2 linked regions of the Homo sapiens genome follow. The protein of the gene in region 1 interacts with the protein of each later gene in a pairwise test. Each region holds a gene or a part of one and is shown on either strand. Other genes may lie near its edges. The genes, in order: FOXA1 and SEZ6L2.

Region 1 (3,521 bases):
CCGGCATGCCGGGGGGCTCGGCGGGCGCCATGAACAGCATGACTGCGGCCGGCGTGACGGCCATGGGTACGGCGCTGAGCCCGAGCGGCATGGGCGCCATGGGTGCGCAGCAGGCGGCCTCCATGAATGGCCTGGGCCCCTACGCGGCCGCCATGAACCCGTGCATGAGCCCCATGGCGTACGCGCCGTCCAACCTGGGCCGCAGCCGCGCGGGCGGCGGCGGCGACGCCAAGACGTTCAAGCGCAGCTACCCGCACGCCAAGCCGCCCTACTCGTACATCTCGCTCATCACCATGGCCATCCAGCAGGCGCCCAGCAAGATGCTCACGCTGAGCGAGATCTACCAGTGGATCATGGACCTCTTCCCCTATTACCGGCAGAACCAGCAGCGCTGGCAGAACTCCATCCGCCACTCGCTGTCCTTCAATGACTGCTTCGTCAAGGTGGCACGCTCCCCGGACAAGCCGGGCAAGGGCTCCTACTGGACGCTGCACCCGGACTCCGGCAACATGTTCGAGAACGGCTGCTACTTGCGCCGCCAGAAGCGCTTCAAGTGCGAGAAGCAGCCGGGGGCCGGCGGCGGGGGCGGGAGCGGAAGCGGGGGCAGCGGCGCCAAGGGCGGCCCTGAGAGCCGCAAGGACCCCTCTGGCGCCTCTAACCCCAGCGCCGACTCGCCCCTCCATCGGGGTGTGCACGGGAAGACCGGCCAGCTAGAGGGCGCGCCGGCCCCCGGGCCCGCCGCCAGCCCCCAGACTCTGGACCACAGTGGGGCGACGGCGACAGGGGGCGCCTCGGAGTTGAAGACTCCAGCCTCCTCAACTGCGCCCCCCATAAGCTCCGGGCCCGGGGCGCTGGCCTCTGTGCCCGCCTCTCACCCGGCACACGGCTTGGCACCCCACGAGTCCCAGCTGCACCTGAAAGGGGACCCCCACTACTCCTTCAACCACCCGTTCTCCATCAACAACCTCATGTCCTCCTCGGAGCAGCAGCATAAGCTGGACTTCAAGGCATACGAACAGGCACTGCAATACTCGCCTTACGGCTCTACGTTGCCCGCCAGCCTGCCTCTAGGCAGCGCCTCGGTGACCACCAGGAGCCCCATCGAGCCCTCAGCCCTGGAGCCGGCGTACTACCAAGGTGTGTATTCCAGACCCGTCCTAAACACTTCCTAGCTCCCGGGACTGGGGGGTTTGTCTGGCATAGCCATGCTGGTAGCAAGAGAGAAAAAATCAACAGCAAACAAAACCACACAAACCAAACCGTCAACAGCATAATAAAATCCCAACAACTATTTTTATTTCATTTTTCATGCACAACCTTTCCCCCAGTGCAAAAGACTGTTACTTTATTATTGTATTCAAAATTCATTGTGTATATTACTACAAAGACAACCCCAAACCAATTTTTTTCCTGCGAAGTTTAATGATCCACAAGTGTATATATGAAATTCTCCTCCTTCCTTGCCCCCCTCTCTTTCTTCCCTCTTTCCCCTCCAGACATTCTAGTTTGTGGAGGGTTATTTAAAAAAACAAAAAAGGAAGATGGTCAAGTTTGTAAAATATTTGTTTGTGCTTTTTCCCCCTCCTTACCTGACCCCCTACGAGTTTACAGGTCTGTGGCAATACTCTTAACCATAAGAATTGAAATGGTGAAGAAACAAGTATACACTAGAGGCTCTTAAAAGTATTGAAAGACAATACTGCTGTTATATAGCAAGACATAAACAGATTATAAACATCAGAGCCATTTGCTTCTCAGTTTACATTTCTGATACATGCAGATAGCAGATGTCTTTAAATGAAATACATGTATATTGTGTATGGACTTAATTATGCACATGCTCAGATGTGTAGACATCCTCCGTATATTTACATAACATATAGAGGTAATAGATAGGTGATATACATGATACATTCTCAAGAGTTGCTTGACCGAAAGTTACAAGGACCCCAACCCCTTTGTCCTCTCTACCCACAGATGGCCCTGGGAATCAATTCCTCAGGAATTGCCCTCAAGAACTCTGCTTCTTGCTTTGCAGAGTGCCATGGTCATGTCATTCTGAGGTCACATAACACATAAAATTAGTTTCTATGAGTGTATACCATTTAAAGAATTTTTTTTTCAGTAAAAGGGAATATTACAATGTTGGAGGAGAGATAAGTTATAGGGAGCTGGATTTCAAAACGTGGTCCAAGATTCAAAAATCCTATTGATAGTGGCCATTTTAATCATTGCCATCGTGTGCTTGTTTCATCCAGTGTTATGCACTTTCCACAGTTGGACATGGTGTTAGTATAGCCAGACGGGTTTCATTATTATTTCTCTTTGCTTTCTCAATGTTAATTTATTGCATGGTTTATTCTTTTTCTTTACAGCTGAAATTGCTTTAAATGATGGTTAAAATTACAAATTAAATTGTTAATTTTTATCAATGTGATTGTAATTAAAAATATTTTGATTTAAATAACAAAAATAATACCAGATTTTAAGCCGTGGAAAATGTTCTTGATCATTTGCAGTTAAGGACTTTAAATAAATCAAATGTTAACAAAAGAGCATTTCTGTTATTTTTTTTCACTTAACTAAATCCGAAGTGAATATTTCTGAATACGATATTTTTCAAATTCTAGAACTGAATATAAATGACAAAAATGAAAATAAAATTGTTTTGTCTGTTGTTATAATGAATGTGTAGCTAGTAAAAAGGAGTGAAAGAAATTCAAGTAAAGTGTATAAGTTGATTTAATATTCCAAGAGTTGAGATTTTTAAGATTCTTTATTCCCAGTGATGTTTACTTCATTTTTTTTTTTTTTTTTGACACCGGCTTAAGCCTTCTGTGTTTCCTTTGAGCCTTTTCACTACAAAATCAAATATTAATTTAACTACCTTTCCTCCTTCCCCAATGTATCACTTTTCTTTATCTGAGAATTCTTCCAATGAAAATAAAATATCAGCTGTGGCTGATAGAATTAAGTTGTGTCCAACGGAGACTCATGAACTCTCTTCTCATTAAAAGAGAAACGAAACTTAGCCATCAGGGTAGCTCTGGAGGAGGTGGGAGGAGGGGAGTTAATTCACTCTCGCAGGGGAAGCGTTGTACCGACAGGACATTTTAGGGTAGCCGCTATTTTGCATTTTGTGAAGATTGTTTTAAATTTTGATTCAAAAATGTCGTTCCTAAGAACTTAAAGTTGATAATTTGTTTCCTTCTAAGGAGCTTTTAAATGCAACTTCACACTCCATAGTTGCTTGGGATCACAAAATCATTAATCTCCTTTGATAGCAGGCTCACTTTCCAGTCCACCTATTTCTTTGTAAGTCTTGTTCGGATTGACATCAACAATAACAACACCAGCTCAAGCAGAGGCCTGCCTGCCTGAGCCCTTGTGTATGAACTCCATCCTCACCAGGGCTTGAACTTGGACAGCCTTTACTTTGATCGCCCCACTCCACACCGCGGACAAGATAAAAAGAGCCGTGTGAGTCGCTTAATTATCGCGTAATTGCCTCCCCAGATGAG
Region 2 (2,769 bases), on another chromosome or scaffold:
GACCCCACAGAGCTCCCGGTTCTCCTCCTGTGGCCTCGTGTCCTCACGGGTGTGTCCAGAAGCCCTGGGTCGTGTGAGGTCATGGGATTGGCTCAGGGGTGTAGTAGAGGGGGCCTTGGCTTGGAAGTCCCTTGCTCTGAATAGGCCTCAGTTTCCCTATCGCTGACAAGTTCTAGTTTGGCTCAGACTGTCCAGGAACCCTGACTTTTTAGGGGTCTGGAGAAAGAGGACAAAGGCCCTGTGCTGGTCACTCCTCTCTCTTCCCCACAAAGGGAGAAAGTTGAGGTTGAGCAGAGGGCAGAGAGAACCAGGCTGTCCAGCCCAGCCCCACCGGGCTCCCGGCCCCTCCCAGCCTCCTCCCCTCCCTGGCTCAGACCCCATCCCCTCCCCCTCCTCTCCCTGCAGTTGCCTATGAGGAGCTCCTGGACAACCGAAAACTGGAAGGTCAGTGAGAGCACAGGTGGAGACCCAGGCTGGCCAGGTTGGGAGGGCAAGGCAGAGGCTGGGGCAGGAGGCCAGGCCTTGGAGGGATGAAGCCCAGGGTTTGAGGCCCAGGGCAGGAGGCTGGGAGAGCCCAGGACCGGGCCCAGCCACAGCTCACCGGCCTCTCCTCCTCCTGTAGTGACCCAGACCACAGATCCATCACGGCAGCTGGAAGGGGGGAACCTGGCCCTGGCCATCCTGCTGCCTCTAGGCTTGGTCATTGTCCTCGGCAGTGGCGTTTACATCTACTACACCAAGTAAGTAGCCTGCTTGGGGACTGCCGGCCAGGGCAGACGTCTTGCGAGCCTGGCACTGGAGCCTGGGTCAGGGGAGCTCAGGGGCTTACCTGTTGATAAGCTCCTCTGTCCTCTCCCTTTCCCAGGCTTCAGGGAAAGTCCCTTTTCGGCTTCTCGGGCTCCCACTCCTACAGCCCCATCACCGTGGAGTCGGACTTCAGCAACCCGCTGTATGAAGCTGGGGTAAGCACCTTGCCTGCCCCTGAAGAGCCACCACTTGGCTCTCCCAGGACTCCATAACCTTCTCGCAAGGTCTCTGGAATCTCTGTCTTGGGAATTTCAAACTCAGCTGCCCCCAGAGGCCATGTCAATGAGCATAGCAAGCCATGTGTATACAATAGGGAGTGGTGAGGACTGTGGCTAAGTGGAGGACTTGTGCCCCATCTCAAGAATACGGCTCTACCCCATAGTCGAAACTGAGGCACAATTGGCAGATCTTCCAATTATTCAAGACAAGCCAGAAATTCAGATTTTTGTGTCATTTTACGACACCGTAGGATGAACCAAACACATTCACTGGCCCCCCAGCCCCTAGAGGTCAATGTTACTTTAAAACCCAGGATCGTTGCCCCTCCTCCCATTCGGCTGCCTCTTCCACCCCTATCAGACTCCAACAACTGACCTGATCTCTCTGTCTTCAGGATACGCGGGAGTATGAAGTTTCCATCTGAACCCCAAGACTACAGCTGCAGGACCCAGGACGCCCCTCCCCTCCTCATTCGGGCAGAGGGAAATACGGGACCCGGTCTCTGCCTCCTGGCTGCCCTCCTCCCTGGCTGTGTAAATAGTCTCCCTATCCCACGAGGGGGCTTTGATGGCCCTGGAGATCCTACAGTAAATAAACCAGCATCCTGCCGCCCAAAGCCGCCTCTTCTCAGTTGCCAAACGAGGGGCCTGCCCCCCGCCCTACCGGCTTTTGGATTCTGGGAGGGGAACTCTGCCTCCCTGCAAATCTTGCAGCCCCTCCTGCCCAGGGCACCCCTCAAGGACTGCCCCCGATAGCTCTACTGTTCCCTTGGCCACGAAGGTGCCCCCCTCCCAGATGCCCTGGCCCTAGGCCTGACTCCGGCCAGGAGGGTCAGAAGAAGGACAAAGGGGAGAGCTGGGACAAGGCCTTGCCCCCTTCCTGCCATCTCCCCAACCCACAGTCTCTCCACCTTTGCTTCTGAATTCTTGTTTTTGAGCAATAAACAGAAAATCGCCACTTGTAATTGGGCCGGTGGAGTGTGGGGAGGTGGTCACCGAGCACTGGACCACTTCTCTGGAGAGAGGGCTGGGGAAAGGGGAACAATTTGAAAAAAAAAAAAAAAAAGGAAATGCGAAAGTGGGCAGAGGGCAGTGTCCGGGGGCCTGGCCTGAGGTAAAAAAGCCTGGCTTTAGGCTCAGCCTCTGTGAAGGCCTCCCTGCGACCAGCCTCACTCCAGGACGCAGTGACCTCTCCACCAGGCCTTCCTTGACATTGTGGGCCTCTTCCAGATGGGAGAGAACTGACAGGAGCCACCCGTCTTCTCTCGCTGCTGGGCAGGAGGCAAACAGCTTTCAATTTCTTTCTTTTTAGAGACAGGGCCTGGCTCTGCCGGCCAGGCTGGAATGCAGTGGTGCCATCACAGCTCACTGCAACCTCAAACTCCTAGGTTCAAGGGATCCTCCCGCCTCAGCATCCTGAGTAGCTGGGACTACAGGTGCAAGCCATGGTGCCTGCCTAATTTTTAAATTTTTTGTAGAAATGAGATCTTGTTACGCTGCCCGGGCTGGTCTCGAACACCTGGCCTCAAGCAATCCTCCTTCCTCAACTTCCCAAAGTTCTGGGATTACAGGCGTGAGCCACCAAGCCTGGCTTTTCAATTTGTCTTATGACCAGTTTGCCTAAAATTCACCCCCTTTGGAGAATTTTTGTATCCATTCAAGTACACCATTTCTTCCCCCCCCCCCAATCTTTTTAGTATTTTAGGCGTATCTGCTGTGACCCATCTACCAATTTGAACTTGTT

The links.
Region 2: the proteins of FOXA1 (region 1) and SEZ6L2 interact in a two-hybrid assay, tested with the Homo sapiens proteins (one large-scale study listed by BioGRID and IntAct).

The regions. Positions count from the first base shown.
Region 1 is NC_000014.9:37,589,016-37,592,536, reverse strand, and holds the end of FOXA1 (hepatocyte nuclear factor 3-alpha), read left to right. Parts: coding exon 1-1,172; 3' UTR 1,173-2,985; downstream 2,986-3,521. UniProt on the Homo sapiens protein: Transcription factor that is involved in embryonic development, establishment of tissue-specific gene expression and regulation of gene expression in differentiated tissues.
Region 2 is NC_000016.10:29,870,380-29,873,148, reverse strand, and holds the end of SEZ6L2 (seizure 6-like protein 2 isoform 5 precursor), read left to right. Parts: intron 1-405; coding exon 406-444; intron 445-622; coding exon 623-740; intron 741-865; coding exon 866-962; intron 963-1,420; coding exon 1,421-1,450; 3' UTR 1,451-1,990; downstream 1,991-2,769. UniProt on the Homo sapiens protein: May contribute to specialized endoplasmic reticulum functions in neurons.